Linked DNA regions of Homo sapiens. The protein of the gene in region 2 interacts with the protein of the main gene of each other region in a pairwise test. Each region holds a gene or a part of one and is shown on either strand. Other genes may lie near its edges.

Region 1 (8,146 bases), on a different chromosome or scaffold from region 2:
ATTAAAGAGGGAATTCTGAAAAGGAAAAATGTGCATTGTTCCTTTCCTTTGAGAAATCAAAGTACTTTCACATTTATCCTCATTTTATCCCACATACTGAGAGAAGGTTATAGGTTACGGAAACAGGGAAACAGAAAAATTAGGTGATTTCCTTCATTCTAAGATGCATGTTTTTGACCCTGACTTTTTAAAAAATCAAAGTGGATCTCACATTACTGATTTTAAAGTCATCTTTTCTAGGGGAGGGCCACACTGAGTGTATCTTACAACTATGGGTACACTCTGCATTAAAGAAATATGGTAAAGGATTTTGCCCAAATTAGTAAGCAAGAAGGTGGCAGAACTGGGCAACAACAACAACAACAACGACACCACTTCTGTTAAGTTATTAATATATACAAACAGGAATATAGTAGCCTGTTTGGCTCCTCTCTTATTAGTTAAATATACAGGGCCTACCTTCTACTACGCTCTTCCTGAAAGAAATACAGAGCCATACAAAACATCTTTTCTGACTTCAAGAAGTATATAATAGGTACCTACATAATAGAGGTGCCTATACAAGTATCTATACAACAGAAAAGTCTGGGATCAATATCAGAAGAATGACACAAAGTGAGAAACATAAATTCAGAAACGGAGTAGTCACTTTCAGCCAGGATACTGTGAAAATCTTCACACAATAAGAGCTTAATATATGTTGACTGTGAAGGCATTACGGAAAACTCAGATAAGACTTTGAAGGACTGATGGATCTTCCACAGGGAGAGATTGTGCCGGAAAGCACTCTAAGAATAGAGACTAGCAGTGCCCAGGAAAAAAACACCAAAATCAGTCACTGGGACTCAATGGCAGAAGCAAGGTGGGGAATAGCGGGAAAGAAGGCGAGAAATGTAGATAGGGGCTAAAATATAGAGTTCACTGAAGGTCAAACTAAAAATTGTGAGCAAACAGGAGTAGCCTTTTGACATTCATGCTTCAGGATGACTAAACTGACAGTAAACTACACTGGCTGAACTGGAGTAGGGAGAAGTACTGCTGCAGACTATAACAGTGTCAAGAATTCTGTTCCTGAACTAGGTCGTATCAGCAGCAATGACAAGAAAGAAGTGTCTTCCCTTTGAATTGCGTGGGGACTGCTTTTGGATAAGAGCAAATTCCAAGAGAACAGAGCATTAACTTGTTAGGATTTGTAGCCCCACTACTCCATGCACAATACTTTATTTATCCACAGTACAGCCTCAAATAAAAAACTGAAAAAAGGCAACCAGCAAAGTCTGATTTGAATTTTCACCACTAATGAGATAGCCAAATGCCACAGTCACAAGCTTCTATTTCTCAAACCCACTCATATTACAGTTAATGTGGCATTCCTCTCCAATCTTGTTTTTACAGCCTAAATGAAATTTTGCCAGAAGACTTTAGAATTCTCCTTCTTCCAAATACACCACAGCATTTTTCTTTTAAAGTTTACAAATCCAATTTCCACACACACACACACGCACGCACGCATCAGAAAACCTTGCTGAAAACTCATGTATCTAGCAGAAATTTTTTCTTTCAGGCAGCAATAAATATGCTTTTTTTTTTTTTTTTTTTTTTTTTTTGCAAACTCCACCTTCCGGGCTCAAGTGATCCTCCCGCCTCAGCCTCCCAAGTGGCTGGGATTACAGGCGCCTGCCACGACGCCCGGCTAACTTTTGTACTTTTAGTAGAGACGGGGTTTCACCACGTTGGCCAAGCAGGTCTCGAACTCCTGATCTCAGGTGATCCCCCACCTCGGCCTCCGAAAGTGCTGGGATTACAGGTGTGAGCCACCGCGTCCGGCCAACATGCTTCTTTAGTTACTTATAGAACCTGCCACATCATTAGTTCAACTACAAACTGCTGCTTACATGACCGAAGTTGTGCAAAGGGTCCAAAGTTGTGCAAGAGTAACCACTGAAATCAGACTCTGGTATATTAATAGTTGCAACATCTAAACAATCTTTATGTTTATTATTAGATTCAAAGTAATGCCAAATCACAGGTATTAAAAATATCTACGAAGAGTCTGTTTACTTTTCTGTGAAATATACTAGGACGTCATTTTAAGTGAGAATAACTGAATTTCTTTCAGCTCATGGACATGAGCTCACCTGAAAATTAGCAGTTGTGACACCGGACTTGACATATCTAAAACATCAGCGTCCTCAACATACACATACCTAAGTACACACCCAGAGCACTGAACGACTTTACATTACTATATAACCCCAGTTCACACGTGGCAAAAGTCCACAGAACTCGTTCATGCTTTCCTAACCCCGAAAGGGATTCTCCAGCCGTCAAGTAATGAGATGTGACTTATTCTGACGTGAGAGTTGAAGGTGTTAAAAAAGCATATTTTATATATATGTATATATATAAAATACATATTTTAAAGGTTTCCTTTTCTCTTTCTCGGCTGCCTGTCCCACGCCAAAAAGCGCCTTGCCCAGGCCTTGATAGATGCGTGCTGGTGGAGGAAGGTTGGACTGGTCAGGAACCAAGACCCGGGCCCCAACACCTTCTGCTCCCCTAGGTTTCCCTCCTTCTTTTTCCTGGGGCCGCGAAGAGACCTAACGCAAGGGGCCCTGGGGGTGGGGTGCAGTCATGTGAGTCGGGCCCCGGCGGCCCTGCGCTAGGCCTCCCCTCCTGTCACACACTTCCTGAATCGGGCGTCGCAAACGGCTGCCACGGCCCTCAGCTGCAAGACTGGCCGGGTCGGGGGCCGCAGACCGGGCCTGGCCAGGCCGCGGCCGCTCGCAGTGCCCACGTCACCAGCTCCAGCACTGCGGAAATGGAGCGGCGCGGCCAGGAGGGAGGCGCCGGGTGGAGTCCGCGTCCCCGCCACCGCCAGACGCCGTTTGCCCCTCAGCCCGGGTCCGGAGGCCGCCGACACCCGCCCGGCCGCGCCCGGGGCCCTCACCTGTGTCGCCGATTATGATGTACTTGAAGAGATAGGCGTACGCCATGGCCGCGGCCGCTCAGTGCCAGGGCACACGGCTCCTCCTCCCGCTGCTGCTCCTCCTCCGCGCCCCAACCCCGGTGCCGCTCAGCCTCGAAACGCCAGGCGCCGCCCGCCGCCGCCGCTGCTGCTGTCAGCCGCCGGGAGTGAGGGGCTGTGAGGAAGCCGGACGAACTGACACCCGCAGAGCCGAGGGAGACAGCGCCCGACCGAGCCCAGCCGAACAATAACAGCCGCCGCGGCGCCTCCGCCCCGCCTCCGCGCCGACCCGGAAGTTCTGCGGCCGCCGGCGCCGCCGGAGGAAAGGGGAGGAGCCCCGCACGCTGGCCCAGCCCTGCACGCTGGCCGCGCCCCGCCAGCCGGAGCCCCGCCCCGCCCCGCCCCGCGCCTGCCTTGCCCGGTCCGCCCTGTCTTCCAGCAGGGCGGGGCCCGGCTCCGGTTGTTCCGCCACGTTTGAGCGGGCGAGCCCGGCGGCCGGGAGACGCCAGGGAACGGGGCTGGTGGGGGTACAAAGGCTCGGTTCCGTCGCCTTCAGCCCTGCGGTGGGGGCACGGGGCAAGTGAGGGGACGGCAGAGGCGGCGTTCGGTGTGAGGCTGCGCCCTGGGCTCCTGAAAATGTGTGTGAAAATGTGGGAGGCACACGGCGAGGGGGTGGGGGTGGCCTGGTATTTCTGTGTTTGGCATCGGGGCTTGAAGGTGAAAATGGCAGTATTTATAAATTGGAAACCGTAAATCTGGGACTGCAAAGTAAATCATGGTATGCACGCACAGTGGAGTACTACGTTGCTCTCACCTGAGGTCAGGAGTTCGAGACCAGCCTGGCCAACATGGCGAAACCGCGTCTCTACTAAAAATACATTAGCCGGGCGTGGTGGTGCTCGCCTGTAATCCCAGCTACTCGGAGTCTAAGGCAGGAGAATCACTTGAACCTGGGAGGTGGAGGTTGTAGTGAGCCGAGATTGAACCACGGCACTCCAGACTGGGCGACAGAGCGGGACTCCGTCTCAAAATAATAATAGTAAATAAAAAATAAATAAAGTCTCTGAACCTGTCCTGGTTCTGAGGGCTGCTCTAAAAAAAAAAAAAAAAAAAAAGCCTGACTTAGGTTAAGCAAAACCGAGATGATCTGTTTATGTGTGTGTATATAACATGCACCATATGTAATATATGAATTGTATATAATTTTTATGTGTAACAAATAGTGGGAAAACATTTACATACCCATATATGCATAATCAATCTGAAAGGAAAGCTAACTGGTATTAAGAGAAAGGAGGGAATGGGATTGGGGGGAAAATGTACTTTTCCCTGAATTTTTTTGTGCAGTTTGACATTTTTTGCAGTGTTCATGAGTTACCTATTAGGAAATACTGTTAAAGGAAAAAACAAAATGACTGTGCATTCAAAGAATAGTTATTGAATACTATGTTTCATGTACCGCCAGGCACAGCAACTGGAGGCCCTGTATGTTCTATGTTCTGTTTTTCTACTTTGCTTTTTCAGTCATCCAGCCCAAAATGTCACCACTCTGTTCAAAAAGACCACAGGTTATGGAAGAGGAGGTGGAGAATAGGGTGTCAGGAAAGGTTACTTAGAGATTATGATTTCTGAGCCAGGAATATGAATTATGTATAGAGTTTGTCGAAAGAACAACAGTTTGGGGAGGGGAACCAAAGTTTATGGACAAGGAACAGAATGTGCAAAATTCCTGGATCTGTTCAGGGAATTTGAAGTTGCATAAGGAAGCTAATTGACTAACTCATATCCTCATAACCCATAACCTCATATTGAAGGAGAATCATTGCTGGGGAAAAGCGATTGGGATTTAGTGGCCCTCGTTCCTGTTGCCTAATACTCTTCTCTTTGGGGCCTCTCATTATGTAATTAGTACTGACACCATCATGCTGGGTTGCTAACATGCTTTGGATGGCCTTGCCAAATATGAACTCACAAGGTTTTTCTGGAATATTTGGAGGGGATTTTACTAAAGGGTCAGAGATGGCACGGAAGAATTTGACATGAAAATTTGACATGAAAAGCTACCTGGAATCGCAAAATTTGGTTCATTCACCTTTAGTTTGAGGAAGGGGAGGTCCCTGCCCAAGGCCTCCAGTTTTCAGATGTCATTTTGTCCCTCCCACTTGAGTGCCTTCACCCAAGTCTTCCTTGGTGATGGAGAAACTCAAGTCTTCACTCTCACAAGATAGAGGGATGTGGCCTTCCTTCACCAGCACAACTCTATTAGGATGTTATACAAATGCCTGGCATCCTAGGAGTCAGGAGTATTCCTACACTGTTAGAGGAGGAGAGTACCTGGAGAGGTCTCTTGTGCCAGGTTATGTAGGGCCTTGTATGTTATGTCACCATGCATTTAGAACTTTACTTAGTAGACAAAGGAAATTGTGACAGGAAATGGTCAGAACTGGGTATGTAACAAAAATCATAGAAATGGATATAAAGCTATAGAGGCAATGTGTTATAAGGAAAATAGGATACCTGGCTTCTGGTCTTGGCTCTACCTGTAACTGATCGGATGAATGTGAGGAATCGTTTGGCCTCTTAAAGCTTCAGAGCACAGGTTGCGATGGCTTGTGCCTGCGGTCCCAGCTACTTGGGAGGCTGAAGAGGGAGGATAGCTTGAGCCAAGCAGTTTGAGGCAGCAGTGAGCTAGGATGGTGCGACTGCACTCCAGCTTGGGCTATAGATTGAGACCTTGTGTCTTAATAAATAAAATAATTATTAAAATAAAAATAATTTAAAAAATTATGAGTGGTTCAGTGCACTTGTCTATTAAGTAAAGGAGTTAAGTGTTTCTTAAAAGGGCTATTCCAAGCATGACGTCTTTTAATTTTATGCTTAGCCAGCCTCCAAATCTAAAGCCATCTGTAAAGAAGGTAGTAATCCTCTCGTGAAAATGCAGGGGCCATAGATGTCAAATGCATATTGTTCTGATTGATTGATTGATTGATTGAGAGGAGGTCTTGCTCTGTCATCTAGGCTGGAGTACAGTGACCCAGTCATGGCTTACTGCTGTCTTGACTTCCTGGGCTCAGGTGATTGTCCTGCCTCAGCCTCCTGAGTAGCTGGGATCACAGGCACATGCCACCACGCCTATATCATTTATTATTATTATTATTATTTGGAGAGATGGAGACTCCCTCTGTTACTCAGGCTGGTCTTGAACTACTGGCCTCAAGCAATTCTCCCACCTTGAAGAACAGGATTTTCAAGTTCTTCTCTGGGCTTCAGTTTCCTTATTTGGAATATGTGGATAATAACTGCTTAACAAAGTCCATTTAGGATCAAATGAGATAATGTATGTGAAAATACTGTGTAAATTATGAAAAATGTATACCTAATACATAAAACTCTTTGCACTGCATAATTTTTGGAAATTACTTGAGGGGCTGAGTGCGGTGGCTCATGCATGTAATTCCAACACTTTGGGAGGCAAAGTCTGGAGGATCCCTTGAGCCTTGGAGTTCAAGAAGATCAGCATGGGTTACATGGTGAGATCCTGTCTCTACAGAAAATTAAAAAGAAAAAAAAGAAATTAACTTGAGGAACTAAAGGCCTAATCACTATATAAATTCATGGTTTAAAATTAAGTTTGTTCCTGGCTCTATTTTATGTCTCTACCTTTTTTCCTATGTATGATTCATAATATTTTGTTATATTTTCTATAAACCTATAATCTCTTAAATCTTCGAAAAAATACAGGGTATAAATAAAAATCACATAAACCTCATTTAAAACATTTTCTTTAGCCCATAAAAATCCAAACATATTTTTCAAGAAAAGTCCCCCAGACAAAATAACAGAAATAAACCTCTCTTCCATTAAATATAGTATACTTCCTGGAATTTTCCATTCAGTTTGATTTTCGGCTATTTTCAGTCTCTTAGGATGTGTTGTGGTAACTCTGTCTCTCAGCCTTACATCATATATGGTCTGAAGGTCATAACTGTGAAATTTCAAGATTGTAGCACTACATTCTTCAGTGTCTCCTAATCAAGTTCTCCATGACATTTTTGAGTACAATACTATATTAGAAGTTTGCATTTGCTTCTCCCAACTAAACTTTCATGTTTATATTTTCTTTGGTTTTAATTACTCTCAGGCTTTGGGAAGAGGGATAGGGTGGAGTGGAATGGGAGAAGGTGGTTGGGAATACTGTAATCTTGAGGTTTTTGCCTTGGTTTCCATGGTTCCTTAGCCACTCCTTCTGAAATGGTATGCAAAACTGATAATGATGTATATATTTGCACATGTACACTTTTATGGGAGAGATTCTTCCATGACCCAGAAATAATTAAGAACAATTGTGAAATGCCTTCCTTCAGCCATCTCCAAGTACCATAACAGAACTAATTTTCCAGCAAATACTTAAACTCAGTACCAGTTTGTTTGTTTGTTTGTTTTTTAGAAAAAGTCTCTCTCTGTCACCCAGGCTAGAGTGCAGTGGTGCGATTTCAGCTCACTGCAAGCTCCACCTCCTGAGTTCAAGCGATTCTCATGCCTCAGCCTCCCAAGTAGCTGGGACTGTAGGTGCACACCACCATACCCGACTAATTTTTGTATTTTTAGTAGAGATGGGGTTTTGCCATGTTGACCAGGCTGGTCTCAAACTCCTGGCCTCAAGTGATCCACCTGCCTTGGCCTCCCAAAGTGCTGGGATTACAGGTGTGAACCACCACACCGGAACTCAGTACCAGTTTTGGAAGAAGAAATAATTAGATTCAAATCCTGACTTTACCACTCAACATCAGTTGAGTGATCTTTGATAGATTACTAAATGCTCTAAGCCTTAGTTTCCCCTCTGAGATGACATATATAAAATGTCTAGCACTATGTCAAGCACACAGAGGACACTTCTTAAACATTGAGGTTGTTTCCCCCTTCCTTTCCTCTCCTCCTTGTCCTCCTCCACCTTCAACCTGTTAATAAGAACTGTAGCTGCAAAGGAAATATATCTCTCCCTCTGCCCCAACTCTCACAACTGGCAATAACAAAAAACAAAAAACCACAGGAGGCTGGGCGCAGTGGCTCATGTCTGTAATCCCAGCACCTTGGGAGGTCGGGGCAGGTGGATCACCTGAGGTCAGGAGTTTGAGACCAGCCTAGTCAACATGTCAAAATCCCATCTCTACTAAAAAT
Region 2 (7,220 bases):
GCAACCTCCGCCTCCTGGATTCAAGCAATTCTCCTGCTTCAGCCTCCTGAGTAGCTGGGATTACAGGCACGCGCCACCACACCCGGCTAATTTTTGTATTTTTAGCAGAGACGGGGTTTCACCATGTTGGTCAGGCTGGTCTCAAACTCCTGACCTCATGATACACCCGCCTTGGCCTCCCAAAGTGCTGGGATTACAGGTGTGAGCCACCGCACTGGCCCAAAAATTTTTTTTTAAATTAGCTGGTGGCACACGCCTACTCAGGAGGCTGAGGTGGGAGAATTGCTTGGCTCTGGGAGGTGGAGGCTGCAGTGAGCCATAACTGTGCCTCCACACTCCAGCTTAAGCTACAGAGCAACATTCTATCTCAAAAAATTTTTTGTTCGGCCTGGCGCGGTGGCTCATGCCTGTAATCCCAGCACTTTCAGAGGCCAAGGTGGGCGGATCACTTGAGGTCAGAAGTTCAAGACCAGTCTGGCCAATATGGTGAAACCCCATCTCTACTAAAAATACAAAAAAATTAGCCGGGCATTGTGGCGTGTGCCTGTAATCTCAGCTACTCAGGAGGCTGAGGCAGAAGAATTGCTTGAACCTGGGAGACAGAGGTTGCAGTAAGCCGAGATTGCGCCACTGCACTCTAGCCTGGGCGACAGAGAAAGACTCCATCTCAAAAAAAAAAAAATTTGTTAATTTGTTAATCAAAAAGGTATCATATTTGCATATTATCTAGGCACATCCTCCTGTGTACTTTATATATATTTTCAATTGTCTCTAAATTACGTATAATATCTAATACACTGCCTATACATCACTTCATTCCCGTGGATTTAACCTCGTACTCTGAGTCCTGCAAATTCGTCTTTGTTTTTGGAACACTGTGGATTTTTTTTTCCAAATATTTTCAACCCTGGTTGGTTGAATCAACCAATGTGGAACTCACGGAGCTCCTATCCCACCTCAGGCCACGCACAGCAGGTTTGGTTAGACTGTACTTGCTTTTAGGGCAGAAAAACAAAACCGGCACCCTAGCAGGACTCCACAGCAGATACAGAGGAGTTATGCCTGCCTTTCTTCCCAGCAGAAAACTTCTCCTGGCAAAAATGCCTACAGATCAACTAGTATCACTGAGCCCTCCCCATGTGGAGACCACCCTAGTCACCTACCTGGTGACAGTGAAGCAGCCGGGAGAAGCAGAAATGCTCAACCTTGTGCCTCCAGGACAGAGTGCAGTTAAGAGGGACTTTCACCACCAGGCATTTCAAAACAGCTGCTTTGCTATAGCTATTTAGAAATATTTCATCCTTCTCTCAAGGCTCATTAAAAAAAAAAGTGGGGTGTGGGGGTATAAACATGTCTAACATTTTTCTCTAAATATCCTGCTGTTTAAGTAGTTGCTTCCAAAACTTCGAAAGACATTTAATCTCAGTCTTGCATTTGTTGTGGAGATCTCTCTATTCTTCCACTATTAAACCTTATGTAGACACCAAATAAATCTGACCATGTATTAAGGAATTTCTGTCATTTTTAGGATCAAAATGCCATATATTTTCAATGTTAAAAACAAATACCCTTAAAAGATTTGAACAGATATGTCATCAAAGAAGATACATGGATGGAAAGATGCTCAGCATCATTAGTTATCAGGCAATTATAACTTAAACCCCAGTGAGATTCCACCTCACCGCACTGACAATTCCAAGTGCTGCTGAGGATGTGGAGTAACTGAAACTCTCATACATTGGTGATGTGAGTAAAACATGGTACAACCACTGTGGAAAACAATTTGATAGCTTCTTACAAACATGTGACCTGGCAACTGCATTCTTCAGGATTTACTCAAGAGAAACAGAACCCCATGTCCGTACAAAGATGTGTGCATGAATATTCATACATCACTCAATTTGTCAAAAATTGGAAACAACCCAAGTGTCCATCTGCAGTAAAACAAAGAAACTGTGGTCTGTCCATACAACAGAATATATTTGTCAGTAAAGAACAACGCATTTCTGACATATGCATTACACATGCAATGCATTTCCGATATATGCAATGAATTTCCCAGACATTACGCTAACAAAAAAGCACATACTAGGCCGGATGTGGTGGCTCCCACCTGTAATCCCAGCATTTTGGGAGGCTGAGGTGTGAGAATCACTTGAGGCCAGGAGTTCGAAACCAGCCTGGGCAACATAGCGAGATCCCCATCACTAATTAAAACAATAAATAAATAAACAACAGCACATACTGTATGAAATACTGGGAAAACTAACACACAATGATGGTAAACAAATTAATGGTTGCTTGGCATTGGAGAAATGACCACAAAGGGCATGAGGGAAGTTTTCTGGGGTAATGGAAAACTTCTATATCTTCACCACAGTGGCCACTTATCAAAACTCATTAGGCTGGGTGTGGTGGTTCATGCCTGCATCTCAGCAGTTTGGGAAGCCAAGGTGGGCGGATCACGTGAGGTCAGGAATTCAAGACCTGCCTGGCCAACATGGTGAAACCCCATCTCTACTAAAAAATACAAAAAATTAGCCAGGTGTGGTGGTGCATGCCTGTAGTCCCAGCTACTTGGGAGGCTGAGGCAGGAGAATGGCTTGAACCCGGGAGGCAGGGGTTGCAGTGAGCCGAGCTTGCACCACTGCACTACAGCCTGGGCAACAGAGTGAGATTCTGTCTCAAAAAAAAAAAAAAAAAAGATGTAATAATACCTAGCACTTGTTGCCTGCTTTCCATGTGCTAGACAGTTTTAAGTGCCTTAGATTATATTTATTCTTTACAAACACTCTGCAAGAAAATACCATTATTAAGTACGAAAATTAAACTGAAGCAGACAGAGACTGAGTAACACAGTCAACCAGAAGTGGAGATGGATTTTTTTTAAGAGACAGGGTCTCGGGCTGGGCACAGTGGCTCACGTCTGTAATCCCAGCTCTTTGGAAGGTCGAGGTGGGCGGATCACGAGGTCAAGAGTTTAGGACCAGCCTGGCCAACATGGTGAAACCTCATCTCTACTAAAAATACAAAAATTAGCCAGGTGTGGTGGCAGGTGCCTGTAATCCTAGCTATTCGGGAGGCTGAGGCAGGAGAATCACTTGAAACCAGAAGGTGGATGTTGCGGTGAGCCAAGATCGTGTCACTGCACTCCAACCTGGGTGAAAAAGCAAAACCCTCTGTCTCAAAAAAAAAAAAAAAAAAAAAAAAAAGAGAGACAGCATCTCACTCTGTTGCTCATTGCTTAGGCTGAAGTGCAGTGATGGCATCCACAGCTCACTGCAGCCTCGACCTCTTAGGCTCAAGTGATTCTCCCACCTCAGTCTCCAAAGTAGCTGGGACTACAGATGTGTACCACCTTGCCAGGCTAATTTTTAATTCATTTTGTAGAAACAGGGTCTCGGGCCAGCCAGTCTTGAACTTTTGACCTCACGGGATCCTTCCACCTCAGCCTCCCAAAGTCCTGGGATTACAGGCATGAGCTACCACCCCTGGCCCAGAGACAGATTTTTAATCCAGATATCTGATGTCAGAGCCAACACTCTTAGCCACTGTTTTGTATTATTTGGAGAATTTCAATGAAATTAACATCAGAGTATACCAAGTTTCTATTATTTATGACTTCAAATAGAACTTAAAGTAAAAGTCTAAAATATCTAGTTTGAGCAACATCTAACAGATTCTGGATCCACTTTTTCCCAGATTTTTATAAAATCATCTTGGTTCTTTTACAAGATTATTTCCTTAAAAAGGAGATTTACCTATTTTGTCAAGGTAGATAAGAAGATATTTATTGAATCAAAGAATAATCCCTTGAGAGGCTGTGTTTTACCTCTAGTGCAGTAGACTCCTGCTTGTTAAGGGCAACCTCTGGCCTGTGTTAAGAAGGGTGTGGTCAGGATTAGGCAGGCAGCAGAGAAGAAAATGGAATTGGTCAATATAAGGGGGAAAAGCTGTAAAAGGAAAGAGTAAGCAATTGTAGAGTTAGCTAAGAATATTTTTCAATGCACCACATAAATTCAGGCATCATGGGTACGCCTTCCTGCTATTCAGAGTTGAATATAATGAGGTTTTGTTGTTGTTTTGTTTGTTTTTTATCCCTGCCTACTGTTTCTTAAACTTAACTTCAGGCTGGGAATGGTGGCTCATGTCTGTAATCCCTGAACTTTGTGAGGCCAAAGAAGGAGGACTGCTTGAGCCTAGTAGTTCAGACCAGCCTGGGCAACACAGTGAGACCTCATGTCTACAAAAAAAGGAAAAAAAGAAAACTGCTGGGCATGGTGGTGCACACCTGTAGTCCCAAGCTACACGGGAGCCTGAGGTGGGAAGTCAAGGCTGCAGTGAGCTGTGATCACGCCACTGCACTCTAGTCTGGTCAACAGAGCAAGACCCTGTCTCTAAAAATAAATAAAATAAAATGTAACTTCAGGGACTGCTGACTGTATATTCTCCCACTTTTTTTTTTTTTTTTTTGAGACAGCGTCTTGCTCTGTCGCCCAGGCTGGAGTGCCCTGGCGAGATCTCGGCTCACTGCAAGCTCCGCCTCCCGGGTTCATGCCAGTCTCCTGCCTCAGCCTCCTGAGCGGTTGGGACTACAGGTGCCCGCCACCACGCCCGGCTAATTTTTTGTATTTTTAGTAGAGATGGGGTTTCACCGCGTTAGCCAGGATGGTCTCGATCTCCTGACCTCATGATCTGCCTGCCTCGGTCTCCCAAAGTGCTGGGATTACAGGCATGAGCCACCCCGCCTGGCCTATTCTCCCACTTTTTATATGCTGATAGTAAGGTAACATGAAATACCATACAAATTAAACTTCACTTTTGAAACACATTACTTCCAAGAAAGTGAAAATATTTGAAGTCACTAAACTATCCAACCAGTTTAATGTATTCAGGGTTGATGACCAGGGAAGCAGCAGGATGTGTTAACGGAGAAGGCACTGACTCGAGAGGTCTGGGTTCAAATCTCACTTCACCACTTGCCACTTTTTGATCTTGGGTAAGTCATTTAACTTCTTAGAGCCTGTTTTATTTCTTAACAGGGGTTTAAGCATAACTACTTTATTGGGACATTTTTGGGCACCACTGATATATTTGAAATCAACTATGGTAGCCAAATCAATGTTTATTGAATTTGAATACTATTTTCTTCAATTGTCAATTTAGGGGACTAGATTTTTGGTTCTTCAGAGCTCTAAAATTGTTTCTGTATCAGCATTTTCCAAAGTGTGCTCCATGGAACATGTTCTCCAGACTATTAGGTTTTGCTAGGAATAAAAGTGTCCTTTTGGTTTTATTGAGGGCTGGAGTGCAATGGCGCAATCTCAGCTCACTGCAACCTCCGCCTCCCAGGTTGTAGCAATTCTTGTGCCTCAGCCTCCCAGGTAACTGGCATTATAGGCACCTGCCACCATGCCCAGCTAATTTTTGTATTTTAGTAGAGACAAGGTTTCACCATGTTGGCCAGGTTAGTCTCAAACTCCTGACCTCAGGCCATCCGCTCACCTCTGTCTGCCAAAGTGCTGGGATTATAGGCGTGAGCCACCAAGCCTGGACTTTTTTTGTTTTAATTTTTTAAATTAAAATGAGTCTGTATTTATGCCTGTTTTATGTTCAATGCATTCAGCAATTTACTCTACCATTTAATTTCTAATTGGACAAAATTAGAAAATAATAAAATATGTTGAACAATAAAGAAATAGTTAAATCTTGGTTTAACAACTTTATAAAATACTATGTAATTAAACAAAATTAATTAAATAAGTATTAGAGTTATAGTGTATTTAACATAGTTTAAGAATAATCTCCAGCCTGGGCAACAAGAGTGAAACCCCATCTCAAAAAATAAAAATAAAATAAAAATAAAAATAAAAATACTATGTAGTATAGACTAGGCAGCAACATGATAAATGCTCACATATACAAGTGTAAAACATAAAAAGCAGAATTCAAAGTTGTCTGTACTAGAACAAAGATTAGAAGAAAAACAAAAGATAAAAATAAATTAGTAGGATTAGAGTATTTTTCCATATACCATTTTTATAATATTGTATTTTAACAGTACTACAAAATCTAAGAATATCTACAGCTGATTCTGTACTATATGGTAATCTTGAATAGATAAACACAGAGGTTCCTTCATACTTTATACGTTTGACTTTTTTTTTTTTTTGAGATGGAGTCTCGCTTTGTCACCCAGGCTGGAGTGCAGTGGCGCCATCTCACCTCACTGCCAGCTCCGCCTCCTGGGTTCACACCATTCTCCTGCCTCAGCCTCCTGAGTAGCTGGGACTACAGGTGTCCGCCACCACGCCCGGCTAATTTTTTGTATTTTTAGTAGAGATGGAGTTTCACCGTGTTAAGCAGGATGGTCTCAATCTCCTGACCTCATGATCCGCTGGCCTCGGCCTCCCAAAGTGCTGGGATTAGAGGCGTGAGCCACCACGCCCGGCCTACCTTTGACTTTTAAAAGACGACTTGAACCAACATATCAATATATGCTGTCTAAAATAGATGTGTCAACGTTTAGGATTAAAGTATTTATTTTTATATGGACAGAGTCTCAGTCTGTTGACCAGGCTGGAGTGCAGTGACAGCTCACTGCAGCCTCGACCTCTGGGCTCAAGTGACCCTCCCATCTCAGCCTCCCGAGTAGCTGGGACTACAGGCATGTGCCACCACACCTGGCTAATTTTTTTGTTCTTGTAGAAGCTAATTTTTGTATTTTTTGTAGAGACGAGGTCTCCTTATATTGCCCAGGCTGGTCTCAAACTCCTGGGCTCAAGCAATCCTTCTGCCTCGGCCTCCCAAAGTGCTGAGATTACAGGTGTGAGCCACCATGCCCAGCCAGGATTCAAGTCTTTTTTTTTTTTTTTTTTTTTGAGACGGAATTTTGCTCTTGTCACCAAGGCTGGAGTGCAATGGCGTGATCACGGCTCACTGCAACCTCTGCCTCCTGGGTCAAGTGATTCTCCCACCTCAGCCTCCTGAGTAGCTGGGATTACAGGTGCCTGCCACCACACCCAGCTAATTTTTGTATTTTTAGTAGAGATGGGATTTCACCATGTTAGCCAGGCTGGTCTCGGACTCCTGACCTCAGATGATCCACCTGTCTCGGCCTCCCAAAGTGCTGGGATTACAGGCATGAGCCACCGAGCCCAGCTCGGATGTATTTTTTTCTATTCCAGCCCAGGCATACGTGACTTGCCCCAAATACAATG
Region 3 (7,220 bases), on a different chromosome or scaffold from region 2:
TTTCTCTGGTGGGGGATTTATAGCATCTTCCCTTCTGTTGGGTACCCCGGACTCCCACTGAATGTGCAGGTCCCAGTGGCTGCCTTCAGAGCCTGGCTGGAATCATTAAAAAGGTATTTGTAATCTCTGGCTTCTGCAGAAGGCCCTGCAAACCAAGAGCAAAAAAGCCCCCAGTGCTTATGGGCCGGCAGTGTGGGCTAGGCCCCGGGGCTCCCTGTCCCCAAGAGAAAGACCAGGTTGCTCGGAGGGTGCCTCTGGGAACTTTGGTGCGGGCTATTTGCTCCCCCCATGGCGGCAGGAGCAAGCTGGGACTTGTTTGGGAAGGCCACAGCTGGGTGGTTTTCCTCCTCTGGCTGTACATACACCTTTCAATCCATTTCTTTCATCTTGAAAGGACAAAGACCGGCTTGTCTGAGCCTCTTAATCAGTCAGGCTGGCTTTGGGCTTTGTGGGACCCTGACTTTCTCAGGTCTAGCTTTCTGGGACATCACTCCAAATTAGATGGCAGAGTGGCTTTTAACAGAGCGCACTGACCTTGTTTTCTTTCTCTCTCTGTCCCTAAACTCGAGGTCATTAGTTAGGTGAAGACCTGGGCTGCAGTTTGGCGAGACACTTCCTGTAGATGCTTCTAATGTTGGCCTTTAATTTCTGCTAAGCAGCAGCACACAAATAAATGGCCTGTCCCTTCTATCCTGTTGTAGCTTGGAATTTCTCCATAGGAGGGACTTGGGGGTGGCAGTAGGGTTGGAGAGGGTTGGGGGGAGGTGTAGGAGACTTGTCTGGCCACTGAGTTTGCTGAGAAAGTACTGCTATAGTGTTTTTCCTTGGATTGCAAATCATGTTGATCTGTAGTATTCGAAGTTTTCTAAAGGCAAGTTTATTCTCACAATTTACATAAGAGTGAGAAAATATCACTTGCACATATCAAACTATTACTTCTTATTATGGTGGGAGTTTGGCGGGGGGGGCATGGGTGAGGATCTTGGCAGCCTCTGCTGCCCCTTCGCCCTGCACTGCAGAGCTCTGCTGTCTTGCAGGCAGGCGGCCTGCGTGCGCGGGAGGGGGGACCCTTGCCTGAATTCTGAAGGCTTTTGCAGACCTGGTGCATTTATTCTTCCTTCTGTCTGCCGCCAAACTGGTTTTTGTTCCTATAAGTCGTTCTTGGAATTCAAGTTTTTTGCCAGGCTGAGCGGGATCTAAACTAGAGGGGAAACTAGAGGGGAATTTACGACAAAACCAGGTGGTGGGAATGAGGACTAAAGGCCGCACCTTATGACAAAGCCCAGCCTGTACCATAAAGCCCCAGGCAATGTGAACTGAGCTGCCTGAGTGAGACTCCCATCTTCCCAGCCTGGGCCCCTTAAGTTCAATGGCAAGATTTGTAAACTGGTTTGGATTAACAACCCCGACTCCTCTTTGTAGACTTAATTTTGGAATTCAAAACAGCTACCCTCTCTTAAATAATCCCCAGGCAATGGCGACTCCGCACACTGCATCTAGCCATAGCCCGTTACCATTCTTTCTCTGGGAAGATCCAGCAGCTCTGTTAGGAATCTTGTAAAGTAGCCGGCTGGCACTAGGGGAGTGGAAGTCATCATGTTTATCTCTGGTCCAGGTAATGAAGGCATGAAATTTGTGTAATCTTTGAAGGAAAAGAAGAGAAAGTTGGAAACCTATCATTATTGGAGTCAGCCTATAAAAGTGGCTTTTGTTAATGTAGCTGAAGAGTAGGGAGAAGGCCGTGCAGTTTGATTTTTGCTTTATGCCATCTGGCTGTCCTTTTTGTTGACAAGTGTTTGGCATTAAGACCTCTCCCACTGCCCGTCAAGAGCAGGCCCTACCACTGTAGAGTATTAGAAAAAGATTCTGTTACAGTTTAAAAATTTCCTTCAGGGAGTGCTTCGCAAAGGGGAGCGTGGACTGCAGGCATTTGCAGCTGTAACCTGGCTTGTGTTAAAATTTGGAAGGGGCTGCTCCACATTCCAGCACTCGGAGCGCCGGCCCTCACTGGTGAGCAGCCAAAGGTTAATATAGATGTCACACAGCTCCCCCCTTCTTTCTTTCTGCAGAGCGCCTTTGCTATAGGAGTGCACCAACAGCTGTGTTTTTCGTAACCCTTTCAAAATCACTTCTTTTAAACCTCATTTTCCTGCTTATATAAATCAAAGATTTTCCTCCACTTTTCCCAAGCATGTATGTGACCCAGCTTTGAACTTTTTTCATTTTCTATGTATTTTCCTTCTGGAATCAAGGCAGGGTAAGGCTGAGCCCTGGATGCCAACTTGGGTGGCTGTTTTTGGTTTTGGTTCCAGGGTTGTCATTCGGTTGTGGAGCGGTCCCCATGGAAGGGGTAACAGAGATGGCCCACTTGCAAATCAGTTTCAGGGCAGCAAGGGGGATGATTGTCTGAATGCACAGACAGACGAAACCGCTTTTGAGATGCAGCCCTCTCAAGCTACGGTTTGGGGCTTTACCATGGCGTAGTAGGCTCTCAAGCCTTTGCCGAGATAAACACAGCTGGTGCGCGATCCCCTCACCACCGGAATGCCTGCGATGTGAGTGAATATCACGTGTCCGCTGAACTCAGAGACAACTGGTGACTTCATTCCAGGGAGAGTCCCATCTAAGTTGATTGATCACTCCTATCACTTTAATATCTCTCCCTCATTTGGTAAGGTCATATTTGGCCCATTGCAAGAATCAGCGTGCCCTAAGTCTCCCCCGTCTCCACCCTTCCCCATCTGCCCATCCGTGTAACAGCCTGAATATTTTGAATGGGGAGCCCTTTGCACCATGCTTCTGGCCACATTAATTCTTTCACGCTCACTCTTCAGTCTTAGCGGGGGGGCTGTTGGCACACTGGTTTCTTGGCAAGCCACTGCAAGGCTTCGCCTTAATGCACTCTGGCACTGTCACCGGGGTTAGGGCACAGGCAGGGATGTGTGGGACCTGTCATGTTATTGTCAGAAGGAATGTGCGGATTAGCCTTTACAGCGTAGTGGTGGGAGAGCACTGCAGCTGTGTACACTTATTATAAAAGATTTAAGTCCCACTGGTAAAATCAATATATTGAATTGCACAACCCTCTGCTTTTAATTAGTTTAAATCAAATGCGCCGGTGCCATTTTGCCTTCTCTCGCCTTCATGGGGTGAGGAACTACCAATATTTACATAGAAACTGTTAATTTGTGGTGAAAATGATAACACATTTAGCTTTACACACTCAAATTGCTCCAACTTGATGGATCCCAGATCAACGTGGAGTTGAGCTGAGGAGATGACGTCACCAGGAGCGGGGAGGAGACACCCGTGATGTCTGTTGCTTGGACCCTGGATTCCAGATGCAGGTGGACATGTGTGTAGAGGCAGTGACTGGGGATGCTGGTCCTTCAAGAAGCGAGCTGGTTCTTTCTATTGCAGGTCAAAAACAATGAGATTTACCTACATCATCTAAAATCCTTTCTCGGAAGCATTCTTACAAAATTGCGAAGTGGGCACTTGCTCTTGGGTCATTTTGAGCCTGTTCTCACAGCATGCAAGGGTCATGTACTGGGCAGCTCAAGGCACGGTGCTTTATTTATTCCAGAGCTTCACATGCTTTTCTTTCCAATCCCTGAAACAGTTTATAGAGGAAGGGCGTTTGTTCACTGCAAATGATCCCATGTACGACCGCGGCTATTAGTGAGCCGTTTGGTATTAGCTGTGTGTTCAAGCTGGGATTGAATTCCGGGTTTTGCAGCAAATGGCATCTGACAAATAATAATTGACAAAAAATGTGACTTGGTATTTCTTAATATGGAACAGATAGTTCATTTAAGCTTCCCCGGCAAAAAAAAAATTGCTCAAACTCAAACTGAAATAGCAATGCCAGGGAATACTAGGACTGCTGCTGTGTATTTTTTTCCGCTCCAAAGTAGAGTGTTTATGATTTGGGGGGATATTAGAGTGCATGAAGTTTGACACTTACTTATGCGAAACTCAGGCAAGCATGTGCAATACCGCCTTTTCAACATTTGTGTCGGAAGGCATTGTGGGGAGCCGCGCAAAGCCTGTGCTGATCCGCGTGGAGTGGATTGAATTAATGACAACTCCGAGAGCACCAGCTTTAGGGTAATTGCTTTATTGTTTTGGAGCCAGGGTGCATATAATCCGGTTCCTGTGCAAACATGTTGAACGTGTGTTAATGCATTTCCAAACCAGAGCCTCTCACACAACCCTGCTTTTCATTAATTGATGTCGGTAGCATGGTACAGTATTTCAAAGGGCTGGCCAAGTATAAACTGTGTTTCCAATTTCCTTCCTTTCCTGTGTTTGGAATGCCAATGTTAATTTGTTCCCATGCAGGAGCGGGGGCTGCCAACCGCGGCTTTCTATAAAGGGCTTCACAGTGAAGGCTTCCAGCCCTCGCTGATGCTTGGGGCTGCCTGGCCAAGTCTCCTGACACTTTGCAGCTAATTCTGGGTGATATATGGGGTGGGGGATTGGGGGCTTCACTGCCGTGTAACGGAAGTTCTCGGTGACAGCAGTGGGTGTGACTTGGCAAGGGAGATTGGAACGGCATCCACAGTGATTCTCTTTAGACACAGCCTAAACCTATGTGTCTGTTTCCACTATGACAGCACATTAGCTGTGTGACCTTGGGCAAGTTACTTAACATCTCTGCATTTGTGTCCTCATTTTATAAAGGCTACAAGAGAATCTCTTCCTCAACAGATTCTAAAGAAATAGAAATCATATCACCCATGCGCAGAGGCTGTCACCTAGTAGGTGTAAAACAAATGGTAGCTCTTGTTTTTATTGTGTTGGCCAGATGAAGATTTACGTTGGTATATTAGTCCAAATTTCAGTTTTTAAGTACTTAATCTTAAAATACTGAGATTAAACTGCCCATGTTATTTTAAATGTCAAGAAAATGGTCCCCAGAGTGTGAATATGTGTGCGCCTCCCTCTTTCAGAGATCAATGGAATTTGAATGAATGCACCAAACTTATTTGAGGATGAATAGAGTCTAAGGCTGAATCTTTTCCCCAATTTTAGCATCTATGGTTATTTAATGATTTTACTACTTGGGAAACTGGAACTCAGTGAGAGGGTATACCGGAACTCTCTGTAGTGCCTTTGCAACTTTGAATTAAAAATTAATTTCAAAATAAAATGTTTCATTTAAAAAATTGCATTATTGAAGTATTTCTTCCCAATCCTTTCTGGAAGATGGTCAAAGTACAAATTGTCTTTTCCTTCAAGGGAGTGACAAGCCCAAAGCATTCATTAACAGAACTGCACAACTTCCCCACTTTTTATTGGAGCAGGTGCAAGGCTGCCCAAGGCTCCCGCAGCTGGGGTTAGGCTGCAACAACAAAGCCCTGTGTGGATTCAGCATGTTTAGAAGCCTCTAGAGACCAGAGGACGAAAGAGAATGGCTTCAGGGCCAGATACCGAGGGGTGGCGTTTCTCATTCAAGACTTTCCATAAATTCCCTTCAGCTCTTTATACTGTTTGAAAAATCCGACTCACCAAGTATTAGGTTTCCCTGCATCTCTGAGGTCACGTGTTCTATCACATCTTTATCTCCCTGGAGTAGCTTTCAAGTTTCAATCTTTTGTTGCCTGGCTTAATTAAAATTGGCCACGAATAAAAACTTGCACCGTTTCCAAAATCGAGGACTTGTGTGTTTCTAAGCATTGGGTTTAGGCCTGCCCTGTCTTGTGCTTCCAGCCTGTCTTCTGCTTTCATGTAGCTTGGACTACATGAAGAAAAAGAAAAAGCTAAGCTCTTAGCATGACAGTTGGCATATAATGGTCCAAGTGCTCATCCCCCTGGCAACTTACACACACAAAGGCAGGCAAGTTTTTTTTTTTTTTTTTTTTTGGTGGCTTGTGTTTTGGCCTTCAATAAAGGACACTTTTCCTGTTTTTTTTCAGACAGCCTTATTCTCCTGCCCATGCACAGCCTTGCAGAATTCTCATGGCATAGAAGGTGCTCAGATATTGGTTGTTTCGGTGCACATATGGCATGAAGACATTCTAAGCAGTCTCTTCTAAATGCTTTTGATCTCCAATTCCCACTACTACCTTTTCAGGTACATACCTTAAATAGTAATAAGTTGTATAACTACTGCAGGATAGCTAGGATAGCTTGTGCTTCATAAAACATAGACAAAAATAGAAATTTAAGTAGGAGACACTAAAGCTAAAAGCAATACAAAATTTTGGTGTTTGTTAATTAATACAAATTTTAACTAATGAATCATTTTAATTTTAATTGTTAACACAATTTTAATTAACAATATACATTTAATTAAAATTAAATTTTAATATAATTTAATTAAGTTTGCAGTCATGAAAATTTGCGGTGCAATGGACTGTTCTTTGGTGTTTTCAAAATCATGATTTAACAGTTTAGAATCACTGATCTAAAGGCCTGGTCCCAAATTTCGATGACCCTTCATCTGGTCAGTATAAATGAAGTTATTGTGTGTGAAGAAACTCACAATCTTGGTGCGTTAAAAATCCCAGAAGTTTGTTTTTCATTTGTATCACATTATAGCTCTATCGTGGGTTCAGGGTGGAGGCGTGGAGTTCTGCACATTGGTGGCAGCAGAGTCCCTGGGAGAGGCTGAGGTCCTCAGAATGTTACGAATAAGGTGCCAGAAGGAAAGATAATGTGAACTGTGCGTTGGCTTTTAATATTTCTACCTGGGAGTGACTTTCTAACTTCAAAAATTTCTATTTTTGTCTGTTTTATGAAGTACAAATGATCCTAACTAGTAGTTATACAACTTATTTCTTTTTTTCTTTTTTTTTTGAGATGGAGTTTCGCTTTTGTTGCCCAGGCTGGAGTGCAGTGGCGCGATCTTGGCTCACTGCAACCTCCGCCTTCTGGGTTCAAGTGATTCTCCTGCCTCAGCCTCCGAAGTTGCTAGGATTATAGGTGCCCACCACCACGCCCAGCTAATTTTTGTTATTTTTTTTTATTTTTTATTTTTAGTAGAAATGGGGTTTCGCCATGTTGGCCAGGCTGGCCTCAAACTCCTGACCTCAGGTTTTATCCACCCGCCTTGGCCTCCCAAAGTGCTGGGATAACAGGCGTAAGCCACCTTGCCCAGCCACAACTTATTTCTATTTAGGGTATGTACCCCAAAATTTACTCTTCCACCTGAAAGAGCTTCTGCTCACATTTCATGGGCCAAAGTGAGCCATGTGGCCAAACCTGACCCAAGG
Region 4 (7,220 bases), on a different chromosome or scaffold from region 2:
CAGAAGCAATCATGAGAATTCAGAACTAAGGAAGTTTTTTCCAACGTAACTACATCTGCCACGTAAAAAGTATTACTATAAATTTTGCCTTAACACTGTTGAAAAAAATGTAATTGTGATATATGCAGTGGACTGTTATTGACAAGTTAACAAACCATTTTCAGCCTGTAGTGTGAGAAGAGTTACAAATGATTGTTGAATTTATATTGTATGCAACCAATGGAGCATTAGACAAAGCCACTAGTAGTAAACTTCAGAACAGAGGATGAGGGGAAGCCAGCAGCCAAGTGCAACAGGGTAAGATTACCCAAAATAATGCTTTGGATTGCAGAACTGAGTGTATTCTGCATTTTAACTCGTGTCCCTGAATTATTTTTTGTAGATTTTCTCTCCTAGATGCAATTTTAAAATATCATATTTTCTCCTTTTGAGTCATTTAACACATACTAAACATGTAAGTGCTAATCAGTGTTAAGGTCCTGAGGATGCAGAAAACAAGGTACCTGTAGTTGACATTCTAGTGGTCACCACTTTTGACATGTTCATCATTAGGGTTTTGTAAATGTGTGAACAAACTCTTATTCTAAGGCCTGTCTCCTGAATGACAAGCGTAAGTTCTGTTTGCAACCCTACTGCACAATTTACAAGAGTTCTCTACTACGATGGTCCTAGGATGATGGGAGAATGCTGAGCTATGGTGAAACACTGAATTTAACTTAAACAAATGTTTTCTGTCCTACAAGCCTGGATGAAATATATTATCAGTATGGACTGTGATAAATTATGATATAAACACACACTGAAGTGCTTACCATATGCCTCTTTTTAATGTTTTGCCCCTTTGTGAACTCTCAAATGAGATTATAGACAACTGAGCAGAGACTTTATCACACACCTCATTACTAAGGATTCTGTCCAACGTGGACACTCTGGTGCAGTTGAGGACTTGAGGCCTGAGGTGGTATGAAGCCATATCACCCTAGCCACACTTCCATAGTTTTGCTCTTGTGTCAAGCCTCTGAGGCATAAGATTCGAGTGATCTAGCAATCCCACTATTGAGTATATCCAAAGCAAAGGAAATCAGTATGTGGATCAGATATCTACACTACCATGTTCATTGGAGCACTATTCTTCACAATAGTTAAGATATGGAACCCACCTATGTGTCCATCAATAGATAAATGAAGAAAAGGTGGCATATATACACAATAGAATACTCTTTGGGCATAAAAAGAAAACAAAATTGTGTCATTTGTGGCAACATAGATGAGCTTTGGAGGACATGTTAAACAATATAAGCTAAGCAAGGTAAGATAAATACTAACTGTCCTCACACACATATGGAAGCTAAAAAAGTTGATTTCATAGAATTAGTGAGTAAAACAGTGGTTCTAGAAGCAGGGAAGTGTAGGGGTTAGGTGAGATAGCCAAAGATTGGGTAACAAGATACATAAGTACTGCTAGATAGGAGAAATACATTCTAGTGTTCTAAAGCACCAAAGGTGACTATAATCAACAATAATTTATTGTTTCTTTTCAAATCGCTAGAACAATGGATTTTGAATTTTCCCAAAACAAAGAAATGTTAATTGTTTAAGGTAATACACTAATTACATCAATTTGATCATTACGTATTATATACACATATTAAAATTTCATACCATATCCCATATATATGTACAACTTACATATCATTTAAAAATAATGATAAAATTATATCCAGATTCAAGCGCCTCTTGTAGCGCTTCCCACAGTCCTCACATTTGGATGAGTTTTCTCCATTGTGGTCTCCTTGTTGGTCTTTACAGAAAGACCGGTGTACAAGCCTCTTTCCACAATCCTCACATTTGAAGGGTTTTTTCCGGCAGTGGAGTTTCTTATGATTCAAAATACTTGAAGCCCGGCTAAAGCTCTTCCCACATTCCTTACAATTATAAGGTCTCTCTCCAGTATGGACCCTCTGGTGCAAGTTAAGACCTGACTTACTAATGTAGCCCTTCCCACACTCCTCACATCTGTATGGTTTTTCTCCACTGTGGATTCGCTGATGGATCAAAAGATATGAGGACCATCTGAAGCTCTTCCCACATTCTTTACAATTGTACGGTTTCTGTCCTGTGTGAATTATCTGATGCTTATGCAAATCTAGGCTATCAGTGAAGCCTTTTCCACACTCCTCAGATTTGTACAGTTTCTCTGCTGTGTGGACCATGCAATGCCTATTAAGACTTGACCTAAGGCAGAAGCTCTTACCACATATTTCACATTTGAACGGCTTCTCCCCAGTATGAATTATCTGATGTTTCTGAAGCTGGAAATCGTGAATGAAGGCCCTCCCACATTTCTCACAAATATAAGGTTTCTCTCCTGTGTGTAATTTGCAGTGAACTTGAAGTATCGCTCTACATCTGAAGCCTTTCCCACATTGCTCACATTTGAATGGTTTCTCTCCAGTGTGGACTCTCTCACGAGTTTGCAGACATGAGCTCTGACTGAATTCCTTACCACGCATGTCACACTTAGAGAGTTTCTCTCTCAAGTGAACTCTCTGGTGAATACGAAGAGCTGAGATGTAACAGAAGCTTTTTCCACACTCATTGCATGTATGAGACTTCTCTCCTGAGTGGAACTGCTGAGGAGGATCAAAGATGGCAACATCACTGAAGGACTGTTTACACTTCCCATTCTGTGAAGGTTTCTGTCCTGTATGAATTATAGATAGTCCTGCCTCAACCTGGGAGGGGACATCACCTTGTTCAAAGAAGTGAGAATTATTTATGATGGAGTCTTGAGACTGGGTTAAGTCACTTGCAGTTTGTTCCCAGATTTGCTGGCAAGGGCAGTCTTCATGTGGTCCTGCTTCCGCAATAGTCTTGCCGCCTATAAGGACACAGAATGAAGAGATGTGGACAAATGAAGCCTTTGTTTGGTGTTTTTAAGATTTCACACTTAGGATATGGCATTCAACTTTAATGAATGTTCAGTTTATGTTTTCCCCATGAATCTTGTTTTCTGGTTTGTATGTGACCAATTTATAACCACACCATGTCTCATATGTAAAATCCTTGATGGAAATAACAGACTCCATTAAAAAACTGATATAATATATACATTTAATTTGTTACTATTTCTAAGGAATTTTCTGGTCAGTCAAAAATCTTGCATGATAAATTACTAAATTAAAACATTATGTTCATAGTGAAATATAAATCAAAAGGAAATTTAAGGAAAAACAATAACAAAATCAATAGTTTATATATCTGTGTTTATGTTGTATATCCTTATATAGAAGTTACCCTAAGTAAAAAGAAGTCAGAACTTTGTCCTCAGCATCTGAGAGGTAATCTCTAGGATCCTGACATATCATGCGGGAGGACAGTGTCTTTGTTTGTTAGGGTGCCAACTCTGGATCACTCTGGATAGTGAAACAATATGATTTAGGGTTGTGGCTGGCCACTCCTTTCGAGGGTGAGGGGTGGGAGACCGTCCTCCCCATGTCAGAAAGAACAAAAGTGTTGTTTAATCTGTGAAGTCTGTTATTTGTTACCAGCAACAGGGAATACAGTGTCCATGACAGGACAGAGTAACAGCAGGGAGGACAACGTGGCTGGAAAAGATGATGCAAGGGCGAGAGGACAGATGTAGTCAAGAGGCAGCAGGGGATGAAGAACAAACCTCAGGGTCTCTAAAAGCCAATAAAGAGGTTGTAACTTTAATAACATTAATAAACCATAAAGGCTTTTGGACCAAGGAGTGGAAAACTGACTTGCATTTCCCAAGGATCATTTTGGCTGCTCGGGGGAAAATAGATGTCAGGGTGGAAGGGAGGGAACAGGACCACCAGCCAGAAAGGGGTTGTAATAAACCAGGAAAGAGATTGGGCAATTTAGATCAGGGTGATATAAGTGGGCATGGTCAGAAGTAAAACAAATGGGAAAGAAAGTCATGTACAAGGACACACAGTTGCTTGCTTCTTACCTGAATTTCCTTCTCTTTGGGTTGCTGTCTCCATCATCCAAAACTTTTCTTCCCTTAGGAAGTGGAAAGGGTGGAATGGTTGATGCCCTGTGAACATGCAAAGTCATGTGCTTAATACCAATTCATTCTAGGTAATATCAAGGTAAAATTTACTGGAAATTTAAGTTCCCACTGCATACACAAACTTGAATACTCTAGGATACAAAGCCACTCCTGAGGCCTGATGTACCATTACAGAGGGTGCCTGTGCTCACCCACTGACAGCAGGTTCGTGAAGTTCTCAAGCATCACGTCTTGGTACAGCTTCCTCTGGGCAGGGTCCAGTAGCCCCAGTTCCTCCTCAGTGAAGAACACAGCCACATCCTTGAAGGTCACTGCCTCCTATAACATCAAGGATACATAACCTCAATCCTATGACCATGGACTACTGGGGGAGGAGCAGCATTGAGCAGGCGGAGAGGAGAAGTGGAGGTCAACTTATAGATTTCCCACTCATTCTGTCTGTATCCTGACAGTGATTTTCCTGAGCTCCACCAGAAGTGCAATCATGAAAAAGACCTCCTGTATTTTTACTTTGTGCACTTACTGAGTCTCCTTGTAAGTAACCCCTTAGGATTTCAAATGGTGCATCCTGGGCTACACCTATATAGGTTTCAATGAATTTTGCCAATTGCCCCAGTTGCCCCAGCAACAATGAGCAATTCAGTCTCAACCTTGTTTGATGAGGCTTATTGTCCTCCTCTCTCAGACCCAAACCCTGGATGCTATCACTTTTCTTTAGTATTTGCCAAACTAACAGGTTTTAGGTAACTATTTTCAAAGTAGCCTTGGATCCATTCTCCCCACTTTCTTGTTTATAGGTCTCAAGAATAACCATAAATGTGCTAGTTATGCAGTGTCCTTCCCAGGGAAGATAACATCTTTTTATTTTTTTTTATGCCTTCTTTGGTTCTAGTCCAATCCATAAAAGATAATATCTTGAGTTAGAGAGGAACTGCTCAGTAAGTCATGTTACCCCTGAGGCATATAGCCTGGGACAGGCTGCCTCTTGGGGTGCCTCAGCTATGGTGCAAATGGGGCAAGTGCAGTCGTGACTCCACCCACTCTAGGCAGCTTTCTTAAGCCTTGGAGGACTGGCTCACAGTGGATCATAGGCTTCTGTTGTCCCTTGCTACCTACATGTAATAAATCTGCTTTATGTAATTTGTCATACATGAGTGTGCTCTCTCATGGTAGACTCGCCAAGTCTGTAACTAGTGAACCTGTTCCATGGAATTGGTGCAGCCAGCAGGGTCCAATTTGACAGAACTCTGGACTGGCAAAGGGGGAGCACTTATATCCTGGGCAATTGGCCCAGTGCTGTGATGGCAGCCTGGGGGCGCAGGCTGGACAGCAGCTTGATGATTTATAAAGAAGACAGAATGATAAGCGGGACACAGGCCACCCCTCCACAGATGTGAGCTGGCTGCATGGATTGAGACAGAAGGACAGAATACGGAAACACAGGAGCTTGGTGTGTGATCCGCTGATTGCGACACCTTAAATAATAGCTCATTCCTGGGGCCAGAGGACTCAGGAGGTGGGTGAAGTGGGTCAGAGGGTCCCTGGAGCATCTAAGAGAAATGGAGCCAACATGCGCAATGTGGGCCTCCACAGAAAGGGGGACTAACTATCTGATGGACAAGTATGAAGAAAACCAGAAGGACATGTTATCTTGGTGTATAGAGCACTCTTGACATAAGGAACTCCATCATCAATACAAATACAGTTATGAATGTACAAGGAACAGCACAAGAAGAAAAATCAGGCTAATTTGAGAGCAAGGAGGTGAAGAAGTGGGAGCACTGTTCATTCCTACTAATTTTTCTACTCCATAATGTAACAGTAAAAAACAAAACAAAACCCAAACCAAAAACCAAATGCAAAGTCAACACAAAAGAGACAAAGGAAGCAACTGGCACACAACAGGTCCCAAATGCCCATTTCCTCCTTGAGTCTTCCCAAGACAGAGAAAAATATATGACAATATGAGCAATAAGATGGAATTTTAATAGCAAGAGAGGTGAGCTCTACTCACCTTGAATGTGGTCATTTTTCCTACTACTTTTTGGAGTCTTCAGTGTCTTGAGTAATGGAGCACAAAGGAAGGTGGAATTGTGCCTGGAAAATGCCAGAGACAGCAAAAGAGAGACATGAAATGGTGGCTGGGGAGGCTGTGTAGCAACAAGCACATGTATTATGAATGATCACAGCAGCATTATTCATACTAACCCCAAAACTGTGCACAACCAAAATGCCTTCCTCTGGGTAAATGGATAGAAAAATCATGGCATATCCATATAATGGAATCTAATTTGGAAATTAAAAGGAATGAAGTACCAACCCATGCTACAACATGCACAAACCTTGGAAACATCATAAGAGAAAGAAGCCAGTCACCAAAATCCATGGATTAGATGATTCCATTTATATGAAATGTCCGAATAGGCAAATGTATACATAGAGGAAAAGTAGGTTAGTGGTTGCTCCAGATTTGGGGTGAGAATGAGGTTTAATTGTAAATGGGCACAGAGTCCAACTGAGGGTGAAAAATAACTAAACTGAATTATGATGATGGTTACTCCACTTTACAAAGTTCCTAAAGATCACTGTACTCCTGAAATGAGTGAATGCTTTATGTAAAATATACCTCAATAGAGTTGAAAAAAAATTGCTAATCCACATGTCATTTACCTTCATAAGACTGAATTCTGAGTCCATATTGTTGGGAGATTTATACTTGAACAAACAAATGAATAAATGAAGAGAACTAGAAGTTCATCTTTAGTAGAATGCCCACTAATAATGTACCTTCCAATAAGAAACTTGAGTTTTTTTAAAAAAGGTAACTTTACAGCGGACAAATCTGAAAGGCATCATCTTGGCCAAGTGAACACAGTTGAGATCACCAGTGAAGGGACAAACCACATCATGTGAACCCTGTTATGTTGCAATAAAGAGGAAACCTCATCACTTGTGCAATATCCTTACCAACAATACATAATCTGAAACTAAACATGAAATATATCAAACTCCAAATGAACATCTTTCTCCAAAATAACTTTCCTATTAAAAAAAAAACCACCATGTTTATAAAAGACAAAGACTGTGGAATCTTTCTAGACTAAAGAAACTGTGGAATGTGACAACTAAAGACAATGCATAAACTGGACTTTGAATGGCATTGCAGGTGAAGGGTGGG

The links.
Region 1: the proteins of CCDC125 (region 2) and RAB2A interact in binary tests that used the Homo sapiens proteins (3 or more experiments, as listed by UniProt).
Region 3: the proteins of CCDC125 (region 2) and BMP7 interact in binary tests that used the Homo sapiens proteins (3 or more experiments, as listed by UniProt).
Region 4: the proteins of CCDC125 (region 2) and ZNF230 interact in binary tests that used the Homo sapiens proteins (3 or more experiments, as listed by UniProt).

The regions. Positions count from the first base shown.
Region 1 is NC_000008.11:60,512,058-60,520,203, reverse strand, and holds the start of RAB2A (ras-related protein Rab-2A), read right to left. Parts: upstream 3,218-8,146; 5' UTR 2,997-3,217; coding exon 2,951-2,996; intron 1-2,950.
Region 2 is NC_000005.10:69,322,640-69,329,859, forward strand, and holds part of CCDC125 (coiled-coil domain-containing protein 125), read right to left. Parts: intron 2,074-7,220; exon of another isoform or gene 1,164-2,073; intron 1-1,163. UniProt on the Homo sapiens protein: May be involved in the regulation of cell migration.
Region 3 is NC_000020.11:57,256,473-57,263,692, reverse strand, and holds part of BMP7 (bone morphogenetic protein 7 preproprotein), read left to right. Parts: intron 1-7,220. UniProt on the Homo sapiens protein: Growth factor of the TGF-beta superfamily that plays important role in various biological processes, including embryogenesis, hematopoiesis, neurogenesis and skeletal morphogenesis.
Region 4 is NC_000019.10:44,005,930-44,013,149, reverse strand, and holds part of ZNF230 (zinc finger protein 230), read right to left. Parts: intron 6,140-7,220; 5' UTR 6,072-6,139; coding exon 6,057-6,071; intron 4,361-6,056; coding exon 4,234-4,360; intron 4,067-4,233; coding exon 3,980-4,066; intron 2,882-3,979; coding exon 1,686-2,881; 3' UTR 1-1,685. UniProt on the Homo sapiens protein: May be involved in transcriptional regulation.